2 linked regions of the Homo sapiens genome follow. The protein of the gene in region 2 binds, or shares a complex with, the protein of the main gene of each other region. Each region holds a gene or a part of one and is shown on either strand. Other genes may lie near its edges.

What was found.
Region 1: INTS7 (region 2) and INTS12 share a complex: the UniProt entries of both Homo sapiens proteins name them as parts of the integrator complex.

What each region holds. Positions count from the first base shown.
Region 1 is NC_000004.12:105,701,927-105,705,852, forward strand, and holds part of INTS12 (integrator complex subunit 12), read right to left. Parts: intron 3,465-3,926; exon of another isoform or gene 3,388-3,464; intron 1,884-3,387; 5' UTR 1,722-1,883; intron 1,098-1,721; exon of another isoform or gene 960-1,097; intron 1-959. UniProt on the Homo sapiens protein: Component of the integrator complex, a multiprotein complex that terminates RNA polymerase II (Pol II) transcription in the promoter-proximal region of genes.
Region 2 is NC_000001.11:212,007,694-212,011,619, forward strand, and holds part of INTS7 (integrator complex subunit 7), read right to left. Parts: intron 3,729-3,926; coding exon 3,682-3,728; intron 1-3,681. UniProt on the Homo sapiens protein: Component of the integrator complex, a multiprotein complex that terminates RNA polymerase II (Pol II) transcription in the promoter-proximal region of genes.

The sequences.
Region 1 (3,926 bases), on a different chromosome or scaffold from region 2:
CTAGATTACAAGACTGCGGAAGTCATCAACACCAACATTCCAGTTGGAACCTTGGAGTCAGTTCTTTTTATGCAATCTTGCCATTATAAAACTTAACAGGCTTTGTACCCCTCCCCTAAATTACTAACATGGCCCTTTGACCCAGTGGTCCCCATGGTGGAATACAGAGAAAAAAATATTAACTTTTTAATTTATTTCTATTTCTTTTTTTTTTTTTTTTTTTTTTTGAGACAGAGTCTCGCTCTGTCGCCCAGGCTGGAGTGCAGTGGCATGATCTCGGCTCATGGCAAGCTCCGCCTCACGGGTTCATGCCATTCTCCTGCCTCAGCCTCCCGAGTAGCTGGGACTACAGGCGCCCGCCACCACACCCGGCTAATTTTTTGTATTTTTTAGTACAGACGGGGTTTCATCATGTTAGCCAGGATGGTCTCGATCTCCTGACCTTGTGATCCACCCGCCTCGGCCTCCCAAAGTGCTGGGATTACAGGCGTGAGCCACCGCGCCCAGCCAATTTATTTCTATTTCTATTTATTTTTTAAAAATCTATTCATATACAGAGTGATAATAGTGTGTTATATAATTGATCTTTAACCTCAAGGAGCTTTATCTTCAGCCAGTGAAATCTGAAACTTGCCACAACTATTGTCCTCTTTTATTACAATCAATTCTCCTTTCTGACTACAATCTTCCATTACTCTATCTCTTCCACTGCCTTAATCCAGGGACCTCTTCAAAGTGCCAAGTCAATCTTTCTTCTGTATTTATTCATTTCTCTATTCCCATTCTACTTGTTCTTTGTTACAGAAGCCTCCAATTTCTTGTCCCTTCTGCTTTCTCCTTATTGGCACCCTCTTGCCCTGACTTTTGTTTCCTCACCAAACAGAAAACAGTAGTTGAACCTAAAATAAAACACTTATGGTTATGTGGTTTATATTTTATATTTTAGTTTTCTATCTTACCTTTACTCCCCCTTTTCTGTTGCCTTCTCTAATCTCTGTTACTTTTCCTTCCTTACCGGCAAATATCCATATAGTGAAAGAAGTTTACTTTCTACAGCAGTCATAAAGAGGTCAGCAACTTGGTGTAACTGTGTTGATCTACACATACAAAAATATTTTCCTGGAGTTACACCAAATCATGTTACTTCTATACAATTCCTTTCCTGTATATTCATTCCTAAACCCATGGCCAAAACAGACTGCAAAAGAGCCATATCATTCTTACTATGGATTAGAGTTCTAGAAAACAAAGTCCTGTGTGTGTGTATGAAAGAAAAATGTATATATGAAAGATATTTAATATATTAAATGTAGGTTTCATTTAAAAAGTAGATGTTGCTTTCAAAAAGGAGAATGTGAGAAAATTAATATTTACCACTTTAAAGCTTTCGCTGACCTAGGGAAGTGGTAGTAGTAGTATTGATAGGAGTGAATTCTTAGGTGATGCTGGGAATTAGCTGTGTCAAATGCATATAGCACAAAAATCGCCATTACTGAACAATGATCTTTTTTCTGTATCTCTTATTATCCTTGATTTATTGCAGTATGCCGTTTACTTCCTATCCAGCTCACATTCTGTGGTCCACCCTTTCAATACCTCTTTCAGTACTCTAGGCACCCGAAAGCCCTGTAGTTTCCCTACTTTATAGACATCCACCCTGCTAGCCATTCTCTCTCTGCCTGCACCCAAACTCTAAGTGCAACTGGGAGGAATATACATACATTCTATCTTCAGAATCACCATTCTCAGCTTGGCGTTCAGTACAACTTGGCAATTCTCTCATCCTTCTCTGGTCAACTCACTTCCCCACTTTCTGCAAAGATCAGTTATACTTCCTCCATTTTCTTTTAAAATTGCTTCTGTGTTTCAGTAGATGGCCTCACCTACTTCACAAAGAGAGGCTGTCAGAGAGGAATTAAGTCGACTTCCTTCCAGCACATCTACAAACTTACCTGCACTCATCCTTTCCTCTTTCCCATCTGATAAAAAAGGAGAAGGTAGCTCTCTATGTAGTGTCACCTGGATCTGGATCCTATCTCTTCTTGTCCCCTCTTGAACCTTGGCCTATGGATTATTTCCCATATCTTCTTTTTTTTTTTTTCAGCCTTTCTACTGGCATCTTTTCATTGACATTAAATATATTCAAACATCTTCTATCTTTTCTCTTTTATAGCAAAACGTTCTCAGAAATCATATGCTTTTGTACTCTTTTTCTTCATTCCTTCTATTTACACAGCAATTCTTGCAATTCAGCCTTTGTCCCACTATTCCATGAAAATGCTCTCATGAGTCATTCGCCGCCTCAGTCAGGTAAACCTAATACATACGATTGTCCCTCCTACTTCTTTGTCAGTCATCTTTGTAGGTTCCTCCTATCCAATTAAAAATGAGTTCCTCAGTGCTAGGTTCTGGGTCTCTTCTTGACTTGTTCTACATCTTCTTCCAAAAATGTGTTCTCTGAGTCAGCAGCATAGGTATCACGTCAGAACTTAGAAATACAAACTCTTGGTCTCCATTCCTAGGCCTACTGAAGAAAAAACTCTGGGAGTAGGGTCTAGAAATCTGTGTTAAGCCTTCCAGGCAATTCTATCTACTCTAAAGTTTGGGAATTATTGCCCTAGACAATTTGATCTATATAGTCTTTTGCCAGTGATTACTAATACATCTCTGCAGTCCATGTGTCTCTCCCAAGATCCAACTGCCAGCTTGACATGGATATATCATTGGTGCCTCCTATGCAACGTGTCTCCAACAGAGCCACTCATACACTATTCCCTTTTCTCCTAACCAGTTCTTCCTCTAGTAATCCCTTTTTCAAATGATATTTACCCTATTGCCCAAGCCAGTAACCCAGAAGCAGCTTTAACTCTTCCCACTTCCTTAATTCCCACCCCCAATTCAATAACCAAACCTCTTAAACATACCTCAAATCTATCCACCCTTTTCAATCCTTACTACTACCACCCTAGACCAACCTAGCATCATCTATTATCTGGCCCACTGCAAAAGCTTAATCAGTCTCCCACAATCACTCTTGTCATCCCTTTAAACCTTTTCATATCACTCACTTGCTTAAAATCCTTTTATCACTTCTCACAATCCAAAGGTTCAAGAATAAGATTCTTAACAAGGTCTCCAATTCTCTACATCAGGGGTCCCTAACCTTCAGGCCATGCAGCAGGAGGTGAGCAGTAGGCAAGCGAGGGAAGCTTCATTTGTATTTACAGCCACTCCCATCACTTGCATTACTACCTGAGCTCTGCCTCCTGTCACATCACTGGTGGAATTAGATTCTCATAGGAATGCGAATCCTATGTGAACTGTGCATGTGTGTGATCTACGTTGTGTGCTCCTCATGAGAATCTAATGCCTGATGATCTGTCACAGTATACCCCATCATCCCCAGATGAAACCGTCTAGCTGCAGGAAAGCAAGCTCAAGGTTCCCACTGATTCTACATTATGGTGAGTTGTCCAATTATTTTATTATATATTACCATGTAGTAATAAGAGAAATAAAGTGCACAATAAATGTAATGCACTTGAATCATCCTGAAACCATGTCTTCAATGAAACTGGTCCCTGGTGCCAAAAAGGTTGTGGACCATTGCTCTACATGATTAATAATACATATAAAGCAGTTACAACAGTACCTGACACATAGTTGACACTCATTAAATGTTACCTAGTATCTTAGGCCATTCTCACTCTCTCTGTTATAGCTATCTGACTTATTTCAAGTCCTCCAATATACTCTTTCTTACCTTAGCACTTCAGTAGAAAGTGTGCCACCCCCACCTCCATCTTAAGTCACCTCTCAAGTTTCAGTTTTTCCTGCACATTCCCTCAACAAAACTAGAAGTTTCACTGTTACATAGCCCAAAAACATTCTGTACTTATTTGTAATATTAATCACACTGTTAATTA
Region 2 (3,926 bases):
AAGCACAGTAGAAAGCAAAGTCATATTTGCTGCCTATTTCCTCTCATTGTCATAGTAAAAAAATTATACATACACATATACATATATATACACAAACACACACACTTGATGGCTACAGTCTGATTATACTTATGATTTTAATTATTTCCTTCAACAACTAAATCATAATCAGGATGTGAATAAACTGTGTGTAGAATGGTTTCGAAGTCCTCTGAACTTTGTGTAGTAAATGCCTTTCTTTATTGCATACACGACTGGATCCATGAAGACTAACCCTAATCCACGTTTTCCTGTCAACAGTGGAGCGAAACCAACAAATCTTTTCTCTATGGCATGGCTTTGTGGTCATGGTGAACACAAATTTCTCAGTCGTAATGTACCACATACATGCCACAAGCTAATTATACTCTGCGTATTGCTGGCTTTTCCATGGTGAAATAATTGTGGGTATGAACGTAAGACAGCATTTCAACGTCCAACAGTTGCCTACGTCAATAAACTCCCTTGCTAGATGGCCTCTACTTGGGTTTGCCAGAGGGAAAAGAATGAGATCAGAGTATTCCCTGCTTTCCTCTCTGCAGGGTCACATCATGCTCATGTTATTACTTTGTTCCTTAAGGTTCTGAATGCACTTGACACTGCTGACCATTCTATCTTTGAAACTCACTCCTAATGGCTTTGGCTCTTCCACTTTTACTGTTTTCTGACCTCTTTCTCTGGCTGTTCCTTCTTAATCTCCTTTGTAGTCTCCTTGTCTGTCTACGCTTTAATTTCTGATATTCCCATAGGTTGGTAATAAATTCTCTTCTCATTCTATGTGTTTTCCCTGAGTGAGCTGATATAATCCCATGGTTTCCATTATCGGCTAAATGTGAAAGGCTGCCACCCATCCGTCCTCCTGCCCCGACGTCAGACGCATGTATCTCATTATCTTCTGGTCATCTGCACTAGGAGGTCTCAGAAGCATTTTGTATTAATAAGGCTCAAAGAGAACTGATCTTAACCTTGAAACTGCCCCTCCAAAAATATTCCTGTCTCAGTAAATCACATCATTATAGCTTCTTAGACCCTGGAGTCTTTCTTATTAGTGAAAGGATTCTATCACATCCCATTTCCAAATGTATTAGCAAATCTTATTGGTTCTAACTTCAAAATAAAACCCAAACTGACTCTTTCTACCTCCGTTGTTACCATGCCGATCCATTTCCACTACCATCTCTTGACTAAATTATTGCAAGTCTCCTAAGTATTCTCCCTGCTTAGGCCTTTCCCCATGGCAGACTCCACTCTTATATCCCCCTCTTTCCTCCACTGCAAGTTTATTCTCAACCCAGTACTCAGAGGGATCTTTGTGTTTACAGGCATCTTTACTAAAGATTTAGGGAGGCTCGGAGATTTTACTTGGCAGAAACAAAAGTGGCTTAAAACCAAATGTCAGGATTCTGTTCCTAAAACTCCTCTTTCATTTCCATATCTTAGGTTCCAATTTTCCTCCACCCACACTCCTATGTTTTCCTCTGCCTCTCTCTCCTGCTAATTCCTGTTCTTTCAGATTTTTTTAAGATAAAATTTAAGGAACAATAAGGTAATGAATCTTAAGTGTACAGATTAATGTATTTCTACATATGTATATTCTCATATAACTGTCATCAGATACACAGAATACTCCAGCATCCTAGAAGGCTCACCTGTATAGCTTTCATCAACTCCCTTGCTATCTACCCTTTGTTTGGGTTTAACCAATGGAGAGCCCAGCAGGAGTTGCAGAGAAGAATGAGGTCAGAGTATTTATTCCCTGGTTCTCTCACTGCAGGGTCACATCATGCTCCTGGAGGTTAGCTTCTCAAAGTGGTCCTCCTGACATGATACCAATTTTCTAGTAACCTCTCTTTAACCTGTACCCTTAGAGGTATGGTAAAAGCTATTACGGGTTCAAGAACTACATTATCCCCTATAGTACACCCTGACCATGCCTTTGTGAATGGTTCCTTTATTACACCTTCCTTGAGTTATCTTAATTCAAATGTGCCACCTGTTTCCTGCTGAGATCTTGTCTGATGCAGCAGGCACTGATAAAATCTGCTCAATGAATAAGTGATGCTTCCTTCTAATGTCATAAGGATACTTTTCTGCAGGAAAGCCCTTTTGCTAATGGTGGAAGAAAAAACACAAAGGAATAAAGGGGAACACAACAAAGCTCATTCACTGTATCTTGGTCTTTAAGTGATTTTTATTATTTATGCAAGTGAGCAAGTTCTCTTTAATTTTAATTTGAAGGACAATTTAAATGCGTGCAAAATATAACTACACTAAGCAATTCATGCCTTAGAAGGGCACAGTAGCATAAGTGGTTAAAAGCATCGGCCTCAAAGCCAAACTGTAAGTTATCAGCTTTTTTACTGTGAACCAATCATTCAGCTTTAGTGTGGCTCTATTTCCTTTCCTGTAAAACGAACATAATGGTATTACCTATCCAAGGCTGCCACATTGCACAATTCAAAGGAATGCTCTTTATAAGAATATAAACAAAGTGGTGTTCTCTAGAGTCAGGCAATGCTGTAGCCCAAGAGCTCCCTTTTATGACTGCTAGGATAAATAGGGGTATGACACGTGTATTAACCCTATGGGAGCTCTTGGGCTCCCATAATGACTGTTGTAAGGATAAATAGGGTTAATACACATGACTTATGGTATAAGAGACTGGAAAACCAGGGCTTTGTAGTCTATGGTAAGGAATCTGGATTTGATTCTAAATGCAACTGGAAGACACTGGAGGGACATTAGCAGAGAGTTCCAGAGCTCCTAATAATATTAGCCTCTCTCACACAGAGCAGTCTTCCCTACACTAATCATGCCCCCCATAAGTATGCTTTGGTGAATGATGGACCACATGACAGACGGTGGTCCCATACGATTATAATGGAGCTGAAAAATTCCTAGTAACTTCATAGACCCTGTAGTCATTGTAACACCACAGTGCAATATATTACCTTTTCTACCTCAGATATACAAATCATTTTGTTACAATTGCCTATGGGTATTCAGCACAGTTACATGTTGTATAGGCTTAGAGCCTAGGAACAATAGGCTATACCATACAGCCTAAGTGTACAGTTGGCTATACCATTTAGGTTTATTTAAGTACACTCTATGAAGTTCAAACAACAAAACTGCCTAAGGACCCATTTCTCACACAGGATCCCCATTGTTAAGCAATGCAAGACTATATCTGCATGGCTCACTCCTTTCTCTCCTTCATGTCTCACTCAAGTATCACCTCATCAGAGACTGTCTCTGATCAATATATACAAAAAAGTCCCTTCTCTGATCAATATATATAAAATAGATAAGTCCCTTCTCTCAACCCACCAACGACTTACTTTTGAGACTCTCTATCCTTCTTCTCTCACTTTTTCACCATAGCACCAGAAATGTCATAGGCACATTTGTCTATCCCCACACACCCCACCCCTGACTAGAGTGTAGGTTAGATGGGGGTAAGGACTTTGTTTTGCTCATTCCTGTATCCTCAGCATTTAGAACAGTTTGGGCAAATAGAAGATACTTAATAAATATTATTTGAATGTATGGTGACTAGCAAATAATAAGTACTTAATTAGTGTTAGCAACTATTATAAATCTAATTAAGTCACTTCATAATACTAAATGAAGAATACATACCTTGAATCATTTCACTGATTTTGTTACAGATTCCTACAGCAAAATCCCTTTGGAAAAAGAGAACAGAGAACAGAAAAAACTTACATTTGCTTATATTTTCTAAGGACTTAAAAGAAATAAAACACAATTAGCGCAGAAGAAATACAATATTCCAAACTGCAACTAATATTCCAAGGTCAGGTGCTCGGGTTAGGGGAGGTGGTAAGAAACACAACTAAAACAAAAACTCCAGCACCAAATGGGCT